Homo sapiens: one gene and its partners. The protein of the gene in region 4 purifies or fractionates together with the protein of the main gene of each other region. This does not show direct contact. Each region holds a gene or a part of one and is shown on either strand. Other genes may lie near its edges. The genes, in order: FNDC3B, SNX14, OSBPL8, OR1M1 and FNDC3A.

The links.
Region 1: the proteins of OR1M1 (region 4) and FNDC3B purify together in Homo sapiens (affinity purification with mass spectrometry; one large-scale study listed by BioGRID and IntAct). This does not show direct contact.
Region 2: the proteins of OR1M1 (region 4) and SNX14 purify together in Homo sapiens (affinity purification with mass spectrometry; one large-scale study listed by BioGRID and IntAct). This does not show direct contact.
Region 3: the proteins of OR1M1 (region 4) and OSBPL8 purify together in Homo sapiens (affinity purification with mass spectrometry; one large-scale study listed by BioGRID and IntAct). This does not show direct contact.
Region 5: the proteins of OR1M1 (region 4) and FNDC3A purify together in Homo sapiens (affinity purification with mass spectrometry; one large-scale study listed by BioGRID and IntAct). This does not show direct contact.

The regions. Positions count from the first base shown.
Region 1 is NC_000003.12:172,346,623-172,350,975, forward strand, and holds part of FNDC3B (fibronectin type III domain-containing protein 3B), read left to right. Parts: intron 1-589; coding exon 590-739; intron 740-4,353. UniProt on the Homo sapiens protein: May be a positive regulator of adipogenesis.
Region 2 is NC_000006.12:85,545,089-85,549,441, reverse strand, and holds part of SNX14 (sorting nexin-14), read left to right. Parts: intron 1-1,065; coding exon 1,066-1,141; intron 1,142-1,891; coding exon 1,892-1,936; intron 1,937-2,044; coding exon 2,045-2,125; intron 2,126-2,215; coding exon 2,216-2,330; exon of another isoform or gene 2,331-2,358; intron 2,359-4,353. UniProt on the Homo sapiens protein: Plays a role in maintaining normal neuronal excitability and synaptic transmission. May be involved in several stages of intracellular trafficking. Required for autophagosome clearance, possibly by mediating the fusion of lysosomes with autophagosomes.
Region 3 is NC_000012.12:76,391,917-76,396,269, reverse strand, and holds part of OSBPL8 (oxysterol-binding protein-related protein 8), read left to right. Parts: intron 1-1,540; coding exon 1,541-1,625; intron 1,626-3,517; coding exon 3,518-3,689; intron 3,690-4,353. UniProt on the Homo sapiens protein: Lipid transporter involved in lipid countertransport between the endoplasmic reticulum and the plasma membrane: specifically exchanges phosphatidylserine with phosphatidylinositol 4-phosphate (PI4P), delivering phosphatidylserine to the plasma membrane in exchange for PI4P, which is degraded by the SAC1/SACM1L phosphatase in the endoplasmic reticulum.
Region 4 is NC_000019.10:9,089,388-9,093,294, forward strand, and holds part of OR1M1 (olfactory receptor 1M1), read left to right. Parts: intron 1-3,844; 5' UTR 3,845-3,857; coding exon 3,858-3,907. UniProt on the Homo sapiens protein: Odorant receptor.
Region 5 is NC_000013.11:49,202,347-49,206,699, forward strand, and holds part of FNDC3A (fibronectin type-III domain-containing protein 3A), read left to right. Parts: intron 1-810; coding exon 811-938; intron 939-4,353. UniProt on the Homo sapiens protein: Mediates spermatid-Sertoli adhesion during spermatogenesis.

The DNA of each region.
Region 1 (4,353 bases), on a different chromosome or scaffold from region 4:
TGGAAGTTTTACTGTAGTCAAAACTGAGAGGAAATGGTTTCTCATGCCTTTCTTTTTGTAAAAAATTTTATTTTATTTTACTTATTTTATTTTTTTGTGTGACAGAGTTTCAATCTTGTCACCCAGGCTGGAGGGCAGTGGCACAATCTCGGCTCACTGCAACCTCTGCCTCCCTGGTTCAAGTGATTCTCCTGCCTCAGCCTCCTGAGTAGCTGGGATTACAGGTGCCCACCACCATGCCTGGCTAGTTTTTGTACTTTTAGTAGAGATAGGGTTTCACTGTGTTGGCCAGGCTGGTCTCGAACTCCTTATCTTAGGCAATCCACCCACCTCAGCCTCCCAAAGTGCTGGGATTACAGGCATGAGCCGCCGCACCTGGCCCTATTTTATTTTTAAATTTCTAAATCTCAAAAAAAATTTTGTGGGTACATAGTAGGTATATATATTTGTGATCGTGCCTTTCTTTTATATGTATTTGAAATATTCTGGGGCATGTTGCTCTCTTTCCCATTTTAGTTAATTGAATACAAGCACAGTAGGATTCTCTTCTCAGTGGCATTATTAACTACTTCCATTTCTGCCTTTCCAGAGTCCTGATAGTTCTGGTGCTGACATCTCAGAGTACAGGTTGGAATGGGGAGAAGATGAAGAATCCTTAGAACTCATTTATCATGGGACAGACACCCGTTTTGAAATAAGAGACCTGTTGCCTGCTGCACAGTATTGCTGTAGACTACAGGTAGGTTGACATTATTCAGATGTTACTCACAAGGACTGCTGTCCCATGAAAGGCACTTTGGGAAACCCACTCAAAGGCTTGTGGTGGAGGCTGTCAGGAGGGATGATATGGAAAAAAAGAGTCCATTTAAATAAAAATATATTTGGTTGTTTTGGTGTTTTGCAGTTAATTTCCACTTCTCTAGGAAATTCTGAAACTTAAGAACAAAATAAGATTCTTCTCCATTCTGCTTCTCACCACCCTTGTATCTTGTCTGTTCATCAGTTTGCTGAATAAATGACCCAAGTCCAAGGGAAAGATGACACAGCTCCTTAGGGAAGGAGCCTTCTGTCTCATTCCCCTGAGATGTACATTTCAGTGGGAAAGACTCTTAGAACTGGTAAAAGACAGAAAATTATTTTACGAGCTGTTAAATGGAGCCAAAAATAATCTGGACTAGTCTGCATTAGATTACAGGACCCCACCTCCCACCTCCCAGTGACGGTTATCAAGGCTGGTTATCTATAAGCTTCCACTTGGGAGTCCAGATAGAATAACATCAAGAAAAATTGGTTCATAGCCTAACCCCTCAGAGTGACAATAACCATGGGTTTACTTTTATTTTACTCTCTTGGCTATATTATTATTTTTTCTGTGTAAAGCCTTAGTCTCTTGAGAAAATAGAGTTCTTTGTCCTCCTCTTTCCATTTGTTCAGTAACATTTCTTGAGCATTATAGTACTTTGTACCAGGATCAAAGGAAGATCAGGAAGAGAGATACAAAGATTAATCAGATGTGGTTGTTGACCTTGAAGAGCTCTGTCTTCATACACATTTAGATTTGAATAGATAAAGAAGCAAAGATGCCAAAGTCAAGTTCCCACCTGATTTAAGTCATGGATCAAATTCGTTATTATAAGTACACCCAATGTCTCTGGTCTCTTTGGAGAAAATATTCGCTTCATAACTTAATTTTTCAGATCAACTGAAGCATTTCTGTTAAATTCAGAAGTCTGCTGTATTTGAAACATTTCTGATTAAACTCTTTTGTTATACACCTTTCTTGCTTCTCGAATGAAGCACCTGGGACATAATTAACCTTTTGACAATGAGTCAGTGTCACAGCAAATTGTCTGATATTTATAATAGTGATGCTGAGTCACTGGGGAAAGGTTAAATTATGTGCCACACTCTTGTTTTTCTACCAAGGCAGGATATAAATAAAGAGCTGTCTGCCACCCCAGTAAAGAGCTTCACTCCATTATGGTTTTTGAGTTTTGGTGTTTCTTTAAAATGTTATTATATCTCCTTCTCTTTCAGAGTCTATGTTGTCTTAGCATTGACTTCCCAAAGCTGCATTATAAAAGATACATTAATAAGAATAGTACCTGCATAATCTTGCCTCGTTGTATTAACAGGAGTAGAAATATATTTTCAAAGGTCTGTGCTTATTTATAATAAAATGAGTCAGATCTTATGAAGGGAGTACTACTTTTAAGATTACCATTGCCACACTAAAGGACTATTGCCAGGAAGGGGGTCTGTTCAAACTATACCAATTTATTGTTATTTGTGGACCAAATATGAATTATTTTCATTCAACATGATTACAAAGTCAAGTTAAACCCCAATATTTTTTGAATATATGGCACTTAAGAATTTAAATATTGGCCGGGCATGGGGGCTCACACTTGTAATCCCAGCACTGTAGGAGGCTGAGGCCGGCTGATCTCTTGAGCCAGGAGATAGAGACTAGCCTGGACAACATAACAAAACCCCTCCTCTACAAAAAAAAAAAATACAAAAATTAGCCAGGCATCTGTAGTCCCAGCTGCTCAGGAGCCTGAGGCAGGAGGATCACTTGAGCCAGGTCAAGGCTGTAGTGACCTGTGACTGCACCACTGTAGGCCAGCGTGGGCGACAGAGTGAGAGCCTGTCTCAAAAAAATAAAAATTTATTATAATACCTGTACTGTGTTTTATAGAAATGTGGTGGAACATTTCTTGTTTTGCTCAGGAATTTTTGAATTTTTGTATTTTCAGGACTGTTTTAATTAAGTACCAACGTAATTCCATTCATAGGGCATGTTGTATATTATAGGCATACTATTATTTACAAAAAGTTGATTTTGAATTAAATTTCATTTGAAAACTGTTAATAAAAAGTGGTGTAAATCAAGAAATGTTTTCCATAGAGCCAAGCTAGTTAAAAAGAAAGTAGGATCCTGCAGTAGAAAAAGAACATTGGAAGAATTGGTAAGATTCTGATTAGGTCTGTATGTTAATAGTATAGTATCAGTGATAATGTTTTTCTTTTCTTTTTTTTCTTTTTTTTGAGATGGAGTCACGCTCTGTCACCCAGGCTGGAGTGCAGTGGCGCGATCTTGGCTCACTGCAACCTCCGCTTCACAGGTTCAAGCGATTCTCCTGTCTCAGCCTCCCGAGTAGCCGGGATTACAGGCGCCTGCCACCACGCCTGACTAATTTTTGTATTTTTAGTAGAGATGGGGTTTCACCAGGTTGGCCAGGCTGGTCTCGAACTCCCGACCTCAGATGATCCACCCGCCTCAGCCTCGCAAAGTGCTGGGATTCCAGGTGTGAGCCACCGTGCCCGGCCACCAGTGATAATTTCCTGGTTTTGATCATTATTCTATAGTTCTGTAACATGTTTCTCTTCGGAAAAGCAGAGTAGGAGATAGACAGAAATTTCTCTGTACTATTTTTGCAACTTTTCTGTAAGTATAAAAGTAGTACACAATAAAAAGGTGTTTGAAAAAATAGAGAAAATACTATTTTGTTCATAATTTTCCCAGTGGGAAGGAAGAAAGTGTAGCTCCTACTGTTGGCCTGATACTCTGCCAGCATTTTACATATTAACCGATTTAATCTTTACTGTAATTCTATGAATTAGGCATTACTGTCCCCATTTTACAGCTGAGGAAACAAGCTCAGAGAAATTAACTAACCTAAGATCACACAGTTGTTAAATGATGGAATCAAGGTTTGAACTAAGCTTCAACTCTTAAAAGCCATGTTCTTGTCCTTCTGTGATATGGTGATACAAAGCCCTAGTTGATAGAAACATTGGGCTCCATGATATCCTATTTTTCTGCCCCTGTGATACATTTATATCAGTACCAAAATCTCGAAATACATACTTATAAAATAATTTGTCATGTTAAAATTTTTCCAGAAAGAGAGTTGAGGTATTGAGGTATTGTAATGAAACAGAAGTGGGTATGACAAAATGTTGCAGTAGAGTTTCAACTGTGATTTAATAGCAAATAAATGCTTTAAGCCTGCTTCTTTGAAATTAACAAAGGAGTTATAAGTTTTGTTTTAGACCTTGATTTAAGAGCTCAAACTTAGCTGGGTGTGGTGGTATGTGCCTGTGGTTCCAGCTACTCAGGAGGCTAAGGTGGGAGGATCACTTGAGCCTGGCAAGCAGAGGTTGTTGCAGTGAGCTGAGATTGCGCCACTGCACTCCAGACAGAGACAGACCCTGTCTCAAAAACAAAAAACAAAACAAAACTCAAACTCCTTTAGTTTTGTAATTCAACCTCATAAGCTGTCCAATAAGCTAAATGAAAACTAAGTTTTAGAGTACATTCACTTTTGTAAGAAAGCTGCCAAATGT
Region 2 (4,353 bases), on a different chromosome or scaffold from region 4:
ATATTTTATTTCATTGGTGTTCCCCTTTAAAGACATGCACATTATAACTATAATAGGCAGAAACATTTGAACAAACTATATAGATGAGTTTATGTTTCAAGGTATCCAGCTGGGAAAAAGAATTGGAGGTCATCTAGTCTGTTCTCCCTTTTTCTGGCTGGAGCATGTTTAGATTATTCCATAAGTTACCTTGTTACTCTTACCCTAATAACCCTTAGAGGAGTAACCATGGCTTATTTTTAGTGATATTTAAAGTGATGTACTTTAAATACTACTTTTTGTTTAAAATTTTTATGTGGTTCTTAAAAATATTTTAATATTTTGATTACATGATTTTTATACTAGACTAGTTTATAATAGTAAATATGATTATAAGGTAATTACATTAAACATTAATTTAAATATATAATAAACATTTAAGTATTCTTAGATAGAAAGTATTTTCTTTCTTTCTTTTTTTTTTTTAATTATTTTTGAGACAGAGTCTTGCTCTGTTGCCCAGGCTAGAGTTCAGTGGTGTGATCTCGGCTCACTGCAACCTCTGCCTGCCGGATTCAAGCGATTCTCCTGCATCAGCCTCCCTATTAGCTGGGATTACAGGCATGCACCATCATGCCCAGCTAATTTTTGTATTTTTAGTAGAGACGGGGTTTCATCATGTTGGCCAGGCTGGTCTTGAACTCCTGACCTTGTGATCCCCCTGCCTCGGCCACCCAAAGTTCTGAGATTACAGGCGTGAGCCACCCCACCCGGCCGATAGAGAGTTTTTCCTAATGTCCCCCAAGTTCCTCCTGTTAAGGGAATACTTTTTCTTCTCTTAAGTAATATTCTATTTTAGCCAAGTAAGAACTCTAACTCTTTGCTATTCAACGTGTGTTCTGCAAACCAGTAGCATGAACATTGGTTGAGAGTTTGTTAGAAATGCAGACTTTTAGGGCCTAACCAAGACCTACTGAATTATAGTCTCCATTTTAACAAGATCCTTACGTAATTCACATGCACTTGAAAGTTAAGAACTAATATAAATCACTAAATATAAACAATTATTATTATTTCTTTTTCCAGATCTCTGACCTTACTTATAAGAGAGATTCTGTCTGGCTCTGTGTTCCTTCCTTCTTTGGATTTCCTAGCTGATCCAGTAAGACTTAAGATTTTTTTTTAAATTGTTACAAATTACACTTAATATAACATTTAGTATCTTAAACATTTTTATGTATATAGTCAGTGATACTGAAAACATTCATATTGTTGTGCAACCATCCCCATTCCCCATCTCCAGAACTCTTCATCTTATGAAATTGAAACTCTGCATCTGTTAACAATAACTCCTCATTCCTTCCTCCCTCCAGCCCCCCCTGGCAACCACCATTCTGCTTTCTGTCTCCATGAATTTGACTACTCTGGGTACCACATATAAGTGGAATCATAAGTATTAGTCTTTTTGTGACTGGCTTATTTCACTTAGCATAGTGTCTTCAAGGTTCATCCATGTTGTAGCATGTGTCAGAATTTCCTTCCTTTTCAAGGCTGAGTAATATTTCATTGTATGTGTATAACATGTTTTGCTTATCTGTTCATCCATTGATGGACACTTTGGATGCTTCTACCTTTGATCCAGTGAGATTTTGAAGAAACAAGAATGATTTAGAAATATTTTAAATGCCAAAATCAGAATAGCTTTTATTTGCCCATTTTCACAAAGGTTAAGAACCTGTTTTGTAGATGTAAAAAAACTCCTGCTGTAATACATATGTGCAGATTTTTTGCTACTGCTCCATTTATTTTTTCATTTTTCTAGAAACTTACATAATATGATACAAGTTATGAGAATTCTGGGGAGAATACAGTAGTGGAATTATTTTGACTTATGTTTATTATTTTCCACTAGGATACTGTGAATCATTTGCTTATCATCTTCATAGATGACAGTCCAGTGAGTATTGAATATATTAGAAAACACTTCAGATTGCATTGAATTTTGATTTTGTATGTCAAATCAAGTGGGAATTTTACTGAGTTAATAATTCTCTTTCTTTCAAAGCCTGAAAAAGCAACTGAACCGGCTTCTCCTTTGGTTCCATTCTTGCAGAAATTTGCAGAACCTAGAAATAAAAAGCCATCTGTAAGAATTTTCAGCAATAACACCTTTTTGATATAAACAATTTTAGAACTCATTTATATAGCTTAAACTTAATCTTTCTCTTATATCAAGGTGCTGAAGTTAGAATTGAAGCAAATCAGAGAGCAACAAGATCTTTTATTTCGTTTTATGAACTTTCTGAAACAAGAAGGCGCAGTGCACGTGTTGCAGTTTTGTTTGACTGTGGGTGAGGCTTACCTGTGTATTTTACGAAAGTAATTTTTAAACCTTTTAATGTATTTGAATATTTTAAATCAGATCTGATGTTGTGGTACCCATCTATCATTGTACTAAATTTCATATACTCGATTTCCTTTTTTTTTTTTTTTTTTTGTTTGAGGCGGAATTTCACTCTCGTTGCCCAGGCTGGAGTGCAATGGTGTGATCTTGGCTCACTGCAACCTCCGCCTCCTGGGTTCAAGCGATTCTCCTGCCTCAGTCTCCCAAGTAGCTGGGATTACAGGCATGTGCCAGCACCCCAGCTAATTTTGTATTTTTAGTAGAGATGGGGTTTCTCCATGTTGGTCAGGCTGGTCTTGAATTCCCGACCTCAGGTGATCCACCCACCTCGGCCTCCCAAAGTGCTGGGGTTACAGGCGTGAGCCACCGCGCCCGGCCATATACTTGATTTTCTAAGAGCATATGTGGGTTTCTCTCAAGTGCCCACTTCTTTCCAGATTGGGAAATAATCTGTCACTAACTTCATTCAAATCCTAGTAGCAGAAAAAAAAAATACTAAAAGTACAGTATAATGAAAATATATTAAAAACCCAAACTGTAGCCCATGTCAATATCACTTTTTCACAGTTTTTGTAAAGGATTGTTTTGACTAAATTATCAAATATAAGAATACCTCATTTTAATTATAAGCTCTGTAGCATTATAGATTATTGGATTTATAAGAAACTTTATAGACTGAAAATATTGTTTTTAATGCATTTAATTTCTTTTTAAAATATAACTTTAAAAATGAGGTATAATTTATATAGTGAAACACATGGAATTTAAATGTATAGTTTGATCAGTTTTGCATGTGTGTACATCCACGTAACCTGCATCTTTATCAAGATCTAGAACATTTATTTCCATCAGCCCAGAAAATTCCCTTAGGATCCTTCCCAAGAGATCCACTCTTTCCCCTACTCCTGCCAAAGCAATCACTGGTCTCATTTCTCTCAGCACAGATTAGTTTTGCCTGTATAATTTTTTTTATATAAATTGAATCACATAATATGTACTCCTTTGTGCCTAGCTTCCTTCACTCAGGATAATGCTTTTTAAAGTTCATGTATGTTTTTGTCTAAATAAGTAGTTTGGGCAAGGCGCAGTGGCTCATGCTTACAATCCCAGCACTTCGGGAGGCCGAGGCAGGTGGATCACTTGAAGTCAGGAGTTCGAGACCAACCTGGGCAACATAGTGAAACCCTGTCTCGACAAAAATACAAAAATTAGCTGGGCGTGTTGGCTCATGCCTGTAATCGCAGCTACTCAGGAGGCTGAGGCAGGAGAATTGTTTGAACTTGAGAGGTGGAGGTTGCAGTGAGCCGAGATCATGCCACTGCACTCCAGCCTGGGTGACAGAGTGAGACTCTGTCTCAAAAATAAATAAATAAATATGTAGTTTGTTCTTTGCTGAGTGGTATTCCATTGTATGAATGCATATATCTTTTAAACTTCATTATTAGGTGCAGACACATTTAAGATTGTTATATCTTCTTAATGAATTTATTCTTTTATCATTATAAAATGCTCCTCTTTTATCTTTGGTAATTTTTAGTCTTGAAGTCTGCTTTGTCTGATGTTAATATAGCCACATCATCTTTCTTTATATTTGAGTGTTCATTTGTATATCTTTTTCTATCTGATTGAAATGTTTAATGTATTTCTAGTAAGCAGCACATAGTTTCTCTCACTTTAAAAAAACCTAATTTAGTAATCTTTGCTTTTTAATTGGTATCTGTAGTACATTTACACGTGATATATTTATTATGTGTTTATTGTTAGGCCTTACATCTTGGTGTTTGTTTTATATTTGTCCTGTATATTCTTTGCCTTTCTTTTTCTCCTTTGCTGCCTTTCTTGAGGTTATTTTTTAGTATTTTATCTTTCCTATTTTTTTGAGTGTGTTCTGTTACTTTTTTGATTGATCAGAGATTTTCTTTTTCATTTATCATAGTCCTAATTTAAAAACATTTTACTGCTTCAGGAGC
Region 3 (4,353 bases), on a different chromosome or scaffold from region 4:
TTAATCGTTATTTCAGTAGTCGGGAGTCACAGCGAGAATACATTTGGGATCACCGAGTTAGTTCCATTCTGAGGTTAGGTGCTTCCTGCAGGGGAAAGAATTTAACCCCCCGAACCTCTGACATTTATATATTAAGCGATTCTCAAGTGGAGAAAACGACTTTCAAAACCTTTTTAAACAACAAAAAATATATATATAAACATACATATAAATACCATATATATACATATACAAAAATACTATATATACACACATATATGTATATATATATATAGTATTCTACTACTCTTAGGAATTGCAAGCATTAAAATAAATTTTTAAGCCATTAATGATTTTAATGTCAAATTTATAATATTTAATTCTTAATATTGGAAGAAGAGAGAAATCTGTATAATTATATAAATACTTCCCACAAGCAAAACCTACTTAGGATATTGTTTAAATATTTTAGAAGCCAGTGTTTGTGATTAAGAAATAGTAACAGCTATGAGTTCTTTGTGTCAGGTACTTGAATATTTTACATGAAATCATTTATTTAATTCTCATACCTATAAGGAGGATACAGTTTCTTCCCATTGTACACATAAAGAGATTGAACCCTGTTTTTCTAGCATGGAGCCATGATTGAAACCCAGGCAGTCTGATTCCATGTCCCACTATATACTGGTTTTAGGAACTGGCCCATAAATTGTAAAGCTATTTGAAAATGCAGATTATTACGGTATTTGTTAAAGTCATATTAAATTTTTTTTCTGTTTTCGTTTTGAATCTACATCTTTACTTTCTAATGTTATGCTTTTTGGAAATTTATTTCATTTTTTGACCTAATAACTTTAAAGAACCCTTTGAAAACAACTTAAAAATTATGCTTTTGTATCAAAATTATACTTTAAATTCAGTACTTAGTTTTCTTTCCAGATTCGTGTCTACCTAAGTTTAGCATTGGTGATACTAATTAGTGTTGGTATTGTATACTTCTAAAACAAACAACCCTAGCCAACAACAACGACAGAATTTCTTTTTCTTTCATGTTTCTGGAAAAATAAAATCAGCTTATATAGTTGGTGTTTAAAAACAGGTGTATGTCATTGGTTATAAAGTGGAGATTTATTTTTCCCTAGACCCAGTTAAAGTTCATTTCTCTTTTTTTAAATTATAATTCTATTTCCACATGCTTTCTTTAGCCTTCTAGAAATTTAGTATTTCTTATCTCATTAGTTGTATCCATGGGATGGACATTGTTAAAATTTGGTTTAATATGGTAAACTTTAGGTTCTCTTTAGTATGTAAGCAGTATGTAGAGATAATATTTAAGTGATAATTCATTTGTTCAGTTTTCTGCTAAGGAGATATATTTGTTAGAAAATTTTTCTTAATACTTAACATTTGCATTCTCAAGAATGATGAAATTAAAGCTCATTTGCCTTTAGATTATAATCCATACCTGATTTAGATTATTACAGATAATATTGGATAGTGTAAAGATGAGATCTCATAATAATTACTCTATACCATTTATTTTGTTTATTTTGTTATTAAGGGTCCAAAAGGTGAAGCGGTTGGATCCATTACTCAACCCTTACCTAGCAGTTATTTGATCATCCGAGCTACTTCAGAGTCAGATGGTAAGTATAGTTTTTGATGGATTGGATTTTGGTCTTCATTTTTAAGAGTTTTTTTAATGCCACTTTGTATTATTCTGGGGAAATATATTTTTAGTATGGCATTTGCAGCAGAAGCATGGTAATCATAAATTGTTTTGAATGCTAAATATATGAGTAACTTAATAGACAAAAATCTGATAGAAAGGAAGCATTGTGTGATTTACTGAAGAGTTAGCAGTTCAGAGTTTTCTTCTTCATCCTCCATGGACATATTAACACCTTTTTATTTGTTAGTGGTCTTTATGGTACTCTTAAAGATATATTTAATACTTTTTATATTTTACTACTAAATGTTACCATTTATGAGACATATACATTGTTTTGGTTTTGTTTTTTTTTATGTAAGAGATTCGAGTACAACCTTTTTTATTCCTCCTTTAACACTTAATTCATGAAGCAAATATGGAGAGAGAAAAACTTAAATGATATCAAGGTAACTTTAAAATCTTAATAATTAATAATGGATTTTGTCCTCACTTTCATGCTTTCATGTTTCATAGTTTAGACAAGGTTGGTATAGGGAATCTTCTAACCTTCCAAAGTTTACTTTTATCTGATTTTTTTTGTTTTGTTTTGTTTTTGTTTTTGAGATGGAGTCTCGCTCTGTTGCCAGCCTGGAGTGCAGTGGCACGATCTCGGCTCACTGCAACCTCTGACTCCCTGGTATAAGTGATTCTCCTGCCTCAGCCTCCCGGGTAGCTGGGATTACAGGCACATGCCACCACGCCCAGCTAATTTTTGTATTTTTAGTAGAGACGGTTTCACCATGTTGGCCAGGATGGTCTCACACTCTTGCCCTCATGATTCGCTTGCCTCGGCCTCCCAAAGTGCTGGGGTTACAGGCGTGAGCCATCGCACCTGGCCTCAGATTTTTTTTTTTTTTTTTTTTTTTTTTGAAACGGAGTCTCACTCTGTCGCCCAGGCTGGAGTGCAGTGATGCGATCTCGGCTCACTGCAAGCTCCGTCTCCCGGGTTCACGCCATTCTCCTGCCTCAGTCTCCCGAGTGGCTGGGACTACAGGCGCCTGCCACCACACCCGGCTAATTTTTGTGTATTTTCAGTAGAGACAGGGTTTCACTGTGTTAGCCAGGATGGTCTCGATCTCCTGACCTCGTGATCCGCCTGCCTCGGCCTCCCAAAGTGCTGGGATTACGGGCGTGAGCCACCGCGCCTGGCCGATGATTTTTTTAAATTAAAATATAGGTATGAGCTTTCAATATGAAGATGCTTTACTTGGCTGATATTCCCAGCAAATCTTGAAGTGATATATATGAAAATTAAGAGCCCTAAACAAATATAAATGAAAAGTTTTCTGCTAATTCACTTTTAAATTTTTACTTAAAAAATAAAACTATTAATGTTTCTCTTAACTAATATGGCAGTTAATGGTAGCATTATGCAGGCATTTTCCTGACTTAAAAAGTTTCATACATACAAGTAGAATGGTTGTTAATCTTGAGGATAGACCTCCTATTAACAAAAACAGTTACTTCAGATAGTTTGTTTGTAGTAGAATCATAAATCCTCAAGTGTATTTTATGTACCTTGCTTGATACCTTCAAATTATACTGCATGTTAATGTTCTAAGATTTGAAAAATAAAGTATGTTTATTTTAGATTGGGTATAGTTTCTAATGCATGCTGTATACTATTCATTTATCAGTGGTGTGCTTAGTATGTGAAAAGCATTTGAAAAACGGAAAGATTTCATTAAATTCTAGCAAGATGTTATGTTCAGATTAACTTTTCCAGTGCATGTTTCTCAAAGAAATAGTGGTAACAGGGTAAGTTAAGATGCATGCTAGTTTCATAGTTTTAAAAATTATAGTGCTTATGAATCTGTGTTCTTTTAGGAAGGTGCTGGATGGATGCTTTGGAGTTGGCTTTGAAATGTTCTAGTCTTCTTAAACGTACAATGATCAGAGAAGGAAAGGAACATGACCTGAGCGTTTCATCAGATAGCACACATGTGACTTTCTATGGCTTACTACGTGCTAACAATCTCCACAGTGGTGATAACTTCCAGTAAGTAGATACTGCCGCTGAGTTGGTAATGTTTCAGAGACCATACTGTTCACAAAATTAGTTGGCAGGCCTAGAATTTTAGTAGTGTATCTAGGACTGAAATTTGCATATCTTCCCATTATATGGCCTAGGAACCGGCTTAAAATTTGTTTAGCTGCTATAATCAGGTGTAGAAATGTATTTCCTTGATTCCAGCCAACGTGATTTACTTTATCTTTCCCAAATATAGCCATGCTAATTATTCACCTTGTCTGTGCATGATGTCCCTTCTATTAAGAATGATTTCTGCCTACTCCTCCTTACGCTTTTCTCCTGTCTATATATTCTTCAAGATCAGTCTCAAATATTACATCATGTGTGAAACCTTATAACTATGAGACATAATCTGTCTTTCTATAGAGTAACATGTTTTTAGTAATGGCACTGGACTTAACTCTACCTGGTATTTGTGAAATTCATTTATATTTCTGTTTGGAATGGAACTGTATCCTATTTGTGGTTTTATTCCCTGAAGCATTTATTGTAGTTAACACTAAAAAAGCATTTCTCCAAGGAAACTGGGCAGTAGTGCAAAGACTTTCTTGAGATTCAGGTCTTTTTGTTGCTTTGCAGGAAAAACATTAGACTTTTCTATTTCCTCCCTGTCCCCACCCCTTGGCTTCTG
Region 4 (3,907 bases):
GCTGAATAGTTTTCCATTGTGTATTTCTACCACATTTTTTTTTTTTTTTTTTTGAGACAGAGTTTCGCTCTTGTCACCCCGGCTGGAGTGCAATGGCACAATCTCAGCTCACTGCAACCTCCGCCTCCTGGGTTCAAGCGATTCTCCTGCCTCAGCCTCCCAAGTAGCCAGGATTACAGGGGCCCACCACTACGCCCGGATAATTTTTTGTATTTTTAGTAGAGACGGGGTTTCACCATGTCGGCCAGGCTGGTCTCGAACTCCTGACCTCAGGCAATCCGCCTGTCTCAGCCTCCCAAAGTGCTGGGATTACAGGTGTGAGCCACTGTGCCCTGCCTAAAGCCAACACATTTTCCAAAAATCCCTGGCTGCCTCAACAGTTTTCGGAGTGCTCTTACAATCCTCAGGGGTGCTGTGTGTGGGGTGTGATTCTCTATTAATCCAAGCTCCTCATAATCTGATAAATGCTGCCTGGAGTTCATCTCCCTCACTAAACTGTGAATTCATGAATCCATGCGTGCTTCATGAATTACAGAGATTAAGAGTACATGCTCTAGATTTAGAATGCTTGGGCTAATCCAGCCACCTGCTCTCAGTTAAACCCCATTTGATTGTATTAATCTTCTGTGCTTCCATTTCTTCCTGCATGAAATAGCACTAACATTATTCTGTTGTCGTGAGTAGCAAATTAGCAGAGACCTTCGATCAGTGCCTGGCAATACAGGATAACCATCACTGATTCATGCGTATATGGAACAATTATGTTTATGTCTTCTGTATCCCAGACAAGATGCTGGTCACAAAAATGAACAAAGACAAACAATTCCTGATTTCAAATGTCTTGAGGACAGGGTCTGTGTATTTTCATATATTTGTCCCCACAACTCAGGCCAGATCCTGTCACTATATATTGCAATTACCAATAATTTTTTACAAAATGAATGAACGAATGCGTGAGTGAATAAAAGTGACATCTGCAAGGTGTTCATTAGAAATCACAAAAATAAAAAATAAAAATATAAAAGTAACATGATCAGAACTGTAATGCAGGAAGATTAATTTAGTGACTTCAGGATTGTTTCTTTTTTTTGAGATGGAGTTTCGCTCTTGCTGCCCAGGCAGGAGTGCAGTGGCGCAATCGGGGCTCACTGCAACCTCTGCCTCAGCCTCCTGAGTAGCTGGGTTTACAGGCATGCGCCACCATGCCCGGCTAATTTTGTATTTTTAGTAGAGACGGGTTTTCTCCATGTTGGTCAGGCTAGACTTGAACTCCCGACCTCAGGTGATCCGCCTGCCTCGGCCTCCCAAAGTGCTAGGATGACAGGCATGAGCCACCGCGCCCGGCCGACTTCAGGATTGTTTCAAAGGAAGATAATTGGATGCATGAGGCTAGCTTAAGATTAGTGAACTTGGCAACTCAGAAGTAATAAGAGCCTTTCATTTAGGGTGTCTGGAAAGAGGAGATGACTGGAAATGACTATAAAAATAAAAAGTTCAGGACGGGCGCGGTGGCTCATGCCTGTAATCCCAGCACTTTGAGAGGCCAAGGCGGGCAGATCACGAGGTCAGGAGATCAAGACCATCCTGGCTAACATGGTGAAACCCCGTCTCTACTAAAAAGTACAAAAAATTAGCCAGGCGTGGTGGTGGGCGCCTGTAGTCCCAGCTACTCGGGAGTCTGAGGCAGGAGAATGGCGTGAACCTGGGAGGCGGAGCTTGCAGTGAGCCGAGATCGTGCCACCGCACTCCAGCCCGAGTGACAGAGCGAGACTCTGTCTCAAAAAAAACAAATAGATAAAATAAAAAATGGAAAGTTCAGGCTGGGAGCAATGGTTTACACCCATAATCCCGGCACTTTGGGAGGCCAAGTGTGGGCGGATCACCTGATGTCAGGCGTTCGAGACCAGCCTGGCCAACAAGGTTAAACCCCATTTCTTTTTTTTTTTTTAAATAGTATTTGCACCACAGGTGCTATTGTTTATTTTAATTCCAATTAATCAAGAATTGCCACACATGCTAAGAATAAAGCTGTTGGATGTGAACTAAGGAGCACGTTGCTATTTTATTTTAGTGTCCAGATACTCAGCTGGGTTAAACCCCATTTCTACTAAAAATACAAAAGTGAGCTGGGCATGGTGGCGTGCTCCTGTAATCCCAGCTACTTGGGAGGGTGAGGCAGGAGAATTGCTTGAGCCTGGGAAGCAGAGATTACAGTGAGCCAAGATCGTGCCACTGCACTCCAGCCTAGGCAACAGAGCAAGACCCCGTCTCAAAAGGAAAAAAAAAAACAAAGGAAGGAAGTTCGACTTGTAGAGGATGTAACACTCATTGATGGATTGCCTTTGACGGTGGAGGTAGAAAGGAGGAAGACTGAAAATTTCAAACACAGGTATCTGGAAGGATGGTGATTCCATTCATGGACATAGTGGCTCCGGGAGAAAATAGACTTTATTTTTTTATATGTTGAGTTTGCCATGTCAGGAAGAAAGAAAAGAGGGAAAGAATGCTTTGTATAACCCTATTATTATTGTTGTTGTTATTGAGATGTAGTCTTGCTCTGTCACCAGGCTGGAGTACCGTGGTGTGATCTTGGCTCACTGCAACCTCTGCTCCAAGGGTCAAGCAATCTTCCCACCTCAGCCTCCCGAGTACTTGGAACTATAGGTGTCCACCATCATGCCTGGCTTTTTTTTTTTTTTTTTTTTTTTTTTTGGTAGAGAAGGGGTTTTGCCATGTTGCTCAGGCTGCTCTTGAACACCTGCATTCAAGCTCTCTGCCCACCTCGCCCTCCCAAAGTGCTGTGATTACAGATGGGACCCATCGTGCCTGGCCCTAACATTTTTTAATTAATCAAAAAAGAAGAAGAGTTGCTATAAATACTTCATCCATGGTTTAAAGTGCAACCTATATATAAGCTGTTGTCAGGCCAAGTGCGGTAGCTCACACCTGCAATTGTAGCACTTTGGAAGGCCTAGATGGGAGGATCACTCAAGCTCAGGAATTCAAGACCAGCCTGGACAACATAGCAAGATCCTGTCTCCACCACACACAAGAAAAGATAAATAAGCCAGGCTTACTTATGGTGTGTGCCTGTAGACCCCGCTACTAGAGAGGCTGTGGCAGGAGGCTGGCTTGAGCCCAGGAGTTCAAGGTTGCAATGAACTATGATTGCACCACTGCACTCCCTCCTGGGTGACACAGCAAGACCCTGTCTCTAAAAAATAATATCTTTAGCCTGGCGTGGTGGCTCACGCCTGTAATCCCAGCACTTTGGGAGGCCGAGGTGGGCGGATCACGAGGTCAGGAGTTCGAGACCAGCCTGGCCAATATGGTGAAACCCCATTTCTACTAAAAGTACAAAAAATTAGCCGGACGTGGTGGTGGGCACCTGTAGTCCCAGCTACTCATGAGGCTGAGGCAGGAGAATCACTTGAACCCAGGAGGCAGAGGTTGCAGTGAGCAGAGATTGCACGACTGTACTCCAACCTGGGTGACAAAGCAAGACTCTGTCTCAAAAATATATATATATGTATATATACATAATATGTAATAATATATATAATATTTCTATTTTAGAGACAGGGTCTCTAAAGTTACAACACCGTACATGTGTGGAATATATTTACATATATTCTCTCTCTCTCTCTCTCTATATATATATATATACACACACACATATATATTCTATATATACACACACACACACACACACACACACACACATATATATATATACACATCTGGTCTCATAATTAGCCCAAATGAGAACTGGGATGTGATCGCATCTAACTTTCCAAAACCATCTCCCTGTCATTCCTATAACCTCCCCTTTCCATACTTCCAGAGGAATCACACCCATGGAACCAAGAAACCAAACCAGTGCATCTCAATTCATCCTCCTGGGACT
Region 5 (4,353 bases), on a different chromosome or scaffold from region 4:
GTCATCTGTTAAGCAAAACAAATTCTTCATTAATGTGGGTTTTTCAATTAGTTTTACACACACATGTACACATATTTACACACATTTGTATATACATTTATCTTTTAATTTTAGAGGGGTTCTTATTTTAAAGTGACTCTGGCAAGGGCTACACTCTATTTTTAGCTGAAAAGTCTATAAAGTTAATTGCTCTGAAGACTAATCACAGAGACTTCTAGAACCATATCCTAGATCATGTACTTAAACCTATCATTTGTTAAACAGCAGAACTCTTCTTGACTAGTCTTTCTAATAATATTGAGTTTCACTGAGTCATTTTTCTGTTTGCTCATCAAGTTTAGTGTCTCTTAGCTTTAAGAAGAGTGCTGACTATAAGCAGGGCACAGTGGCTCACACCTATAAGCCCAGTGCTTTGGGAGACTGAAGTGGGAGGCTCACTTAAGGCCAGGAGTATTGAGACCAACGTGGGCAACATACTGAGACCTGCCTCTCTACAAAAGAAATTTTGAATCAGCTGGGCATGGCAGCATATGCCTGTGTGTGTAGCTGCACAGGAGGCTGAGGCTGCATTGAGCTATGATCGCACCACTGTTGTCCAGGCTGGGTGACAGAGTGAGATCCCATATCTTAGAATACAAGAGTGCTGATTTTAACCTCTTTGGATGCAAATTTCAAAAATTCACTGATACTTATTTCAAGTTTATAAGTGGATTTTAAATATTTGTTGATTTTTATTAAGACAAGTGTCTGCATGATGTACCAAATTAAAAATCAAGTGGAACAGATATTATTTATATTTGTTTCCTACAGCCCCCAAAATAGAGAAAGTAAATGATCACATTTGTGAAATTACATGGGAGTGTTTACAGCCAATGAAAGGTGATCCAGTTATTTACAGTCTTCAAGTTATGTTGGGAAAAGATTCAGAATTCAAACAGGTATGTACCAAGATATTAATGTGTGGATGCATATTTTTACCCTTTTTTAATTTTTATGTATTTTCAGTGTAAGATTTGGCCATCTTTACCTTTTAATTCATAAATATTTATTCAGTATATATTATGTTCCAGAGATCTCAAGATTCCAAATCTTTTCAGTATGAACTACACTTGAACAGATTATTCATTTATCTGATAAGTATTCATTGAATTCTGTGCCAGGCACTCAGGATATAGCACTGAACAAAAAGTCCCTTGCCTCCATGGAGCTTACTTACATTCTGGTGGAAAAGAAGACACTATAAGCAAGTAAACATGACAATATATTGTCAGATATAAGTGTAATGGAGAAAAAACAAAATTGGATAAAAGAAATAGGGAGTGGAGGGGGAGGGCACTGAGTGTTATTTCATTTGGGGCACTCAGCTGACATTTCAGCATGGCCCAGAGGAGATGACTATGGAGAGAAGAGTGTTCCAAGAAGATACGCTGAGGCAGGAACATGCCTATTAAATCTGATGAACATAAAGGAGCCAATATGACTGGATGGAGAGAGCAAAGGGAAGAGTTGATAAGGTCGGATAGTTAATCCTAAGGGGCCTATAGGTGGTATGGAGTGACGTAAGGCATAATAGGCCATACTGTGGCTTTTACTCCACGTGAAATGAGAAGACAGTGGAGGATTTTGACCAGGGTATTCACGTGATCAGACACAACGTTGTTTTGACTATAGTGTTGAAACTACAGTAGGACAAGGGCAGAACTAGAAAGACTAATAAGGAGGCTTTTACAATAATAGTATTAATAATAGTCATAATGCAGTGCTGTAAATATGACATTAGGCATGAAGTTATAATGGAAACCTAGAGGAATTGTCACCTTCCTAGCCAAGAGGTTTCAAAGATAGCTTTCTGATAAAGCAAGAATAGCAGTGAGATAGAGTGGAGTGTTGCCAATGTTTGTTACAACTTTTAAAAAGAATAAGCTTTTATACCACTCCAAAGACTAATTAAATACCTATACATTTCACCTGATTTTCCCTTTTTCCTGTAACCTTAATTTTGAGGGCTTTTAAGCTGGGTTGTTTTCATTGTGTCTTATATTTTCCTCTTCCACTAAAAAAAAGATCCTTCATTTGTTTTATTCCAGTATTGTGCTATTGTAACCACTCTATGTAATATCTTAACTGAAATTACAAAAGATCCAAAGAGTCAGATTAAATCTGGCATGCAATTGTTTTTCTTTATTAAGCCATCTGCAAATTGACAGGATAATTAGATTTGAAATGTAATTTACAGATAAGTAGGTTTCCTTCTAAGGAGGAAGCAAAATTAATATTAAAGAAAATATAATTGTATTACACGTTTAAAGGAAATAGGGATTCCACATTTGAGTAGTATATGAATAACCTTAAGGCTTGTTTGAATGACTTTTCTTGGGTGTATAAACCTTCTGAAATTAGCTTGAGCAGGTTAATCTGTTTTCTTCAGTCCTGTATTTACAGTTACCTGTGTCTCTTCCTGCTTAGAGGTCTTCCCACATCTGAAATACAAAATTGAAAACTTGATCCCATCATCTTCCCTCCCAGTATCTCCTCTCCAACATCTTTACTTCATCAGTGTCATAGACACCAATATCATCTTGGTCTCCAAGCTTTAAATTCTTAGATGAATTTTTTTTTCCTATCAACTCTTAATCAGAATTTGTTTCTAAATCCATAAAACTACATCAGGGCCTCATCACTTTTTACATGTACATCAAGAGTCCCTGTCCTACTCAGCTCCCTTCAGTCCTTCACACAGCCTCACGATTAGGATTCCATAAACACTGTTTTAATGTCACACACCTACAGTGGTCCCTTTTGAATTAACCTAAATTTCCAACTAGTGTAATTAATGTATTCTTCCTCTTTGTACCAGATCTCTTATCACCCTCATGCCATTTGTTGAGGTTTTTCTTTCTTAACCTAATACTGCCAGGCTCATGGAATGGTATATGAAGACACATGGAAAGTATAAAGACAAAAATCATCTATTATATCCATAAGACAAATACATATTTTTAATTTTTACTCAATTTACTTCAGTGTTATGTATACAATTTTACACTACTTTATCATACAACATTCTGTTTTAAGTGAATCCTTTTACAGGTTGAAGCATCCCAAATAAAGTCCAAAATTCAAAATGTTCCACCCAAAATCTGAAACTTTTTGAGGATCGATATGACACTCAAAGGAAATGCTCATTGGAGCATTTCCAATTTCAGATTTTTGGGTTTGGAATGCTCAACTAGTAAATATGCAACTATTCCAAAATCAAAAAAATTGAAATGCTTCTGGTTCCAAGCATTTCTTATAAGGGATACCCAACCTGTACCATCTCCCAAACATGGATCATTTCTACATTCTATTCCCTGAAACATTATGCATCCTTAGAACTAATGTATAGTCACCATTTTCTTTCAGATTTATCTTAAAGCTTCTTTCAGTAAGTTCCTTTATATATTGTTATCAGCATCCACATTTTTATTTATTGCCAATAATTCACTAATTTAATGTCCTTTTATTAAGTACCTACTATATGCTAGATTCTGGAGACAGAAAAATGAGACAGAGATCTTACTTTACTTTGAGAGCAAAGCAATATGTAAAAATTTAGATTTACATCACAGGTACAATTGAGGCAGCTAAAAGTACTTGAAAGCCCCCATGTGTTGGTTCTTCTGACTTGTAGCCCACCAACTAACTGGAGAAACTCAACTGACAAGTCATTTAACCCTATGAACCTTGGTTTTCTCAATTACAGAATGAGTGGTGGGAGGTTGCTCATTATTGGAAATGATAGCTCCTACAGATTGAGCAGTGACTGCATGCTGAGCACTGCGCTAAGTGCTTTAACAAGCATTAGTTCATTTCATCCTCATAATTATCATACATGTTAACTACTAGTATGTCTGTTATACTAAGGTAGTTGGTCTAAAATCACATCTGGAGTGTGAAGTGGTAGAGCAGACCTTGGATGCCAGGGGTGAACAGTTCTAGTATATAGCTTCTTATTTATGCCTAGTGTTCCATTATTGGAACACTAAGCTTGTGGTAGTTATTTATATCTCACTGATCAAGGTTATTGCCAAGGTCTGATTTTTCACAAAAAAAAAATTTGCAACCTCTGGCATAAATGGGTTAATTACTAGCACATTCCTCTGAAAATCCGTGGAATTTCATTCTTTTTATTTCCCTTGTGAGGCATGGCAGAGGAGGTCCTATTTTCTGATTCTAAGTGATCTCCCCTCTCTGGTTTATACAGTGATTTGCCATAGGCACCTATAGAAAGCTCCCCTTATTCATTTTCCATTTCATTGTACAGATATGTTTGAAATTATATGGAAATTTATCAGTTATACAAAGACATAA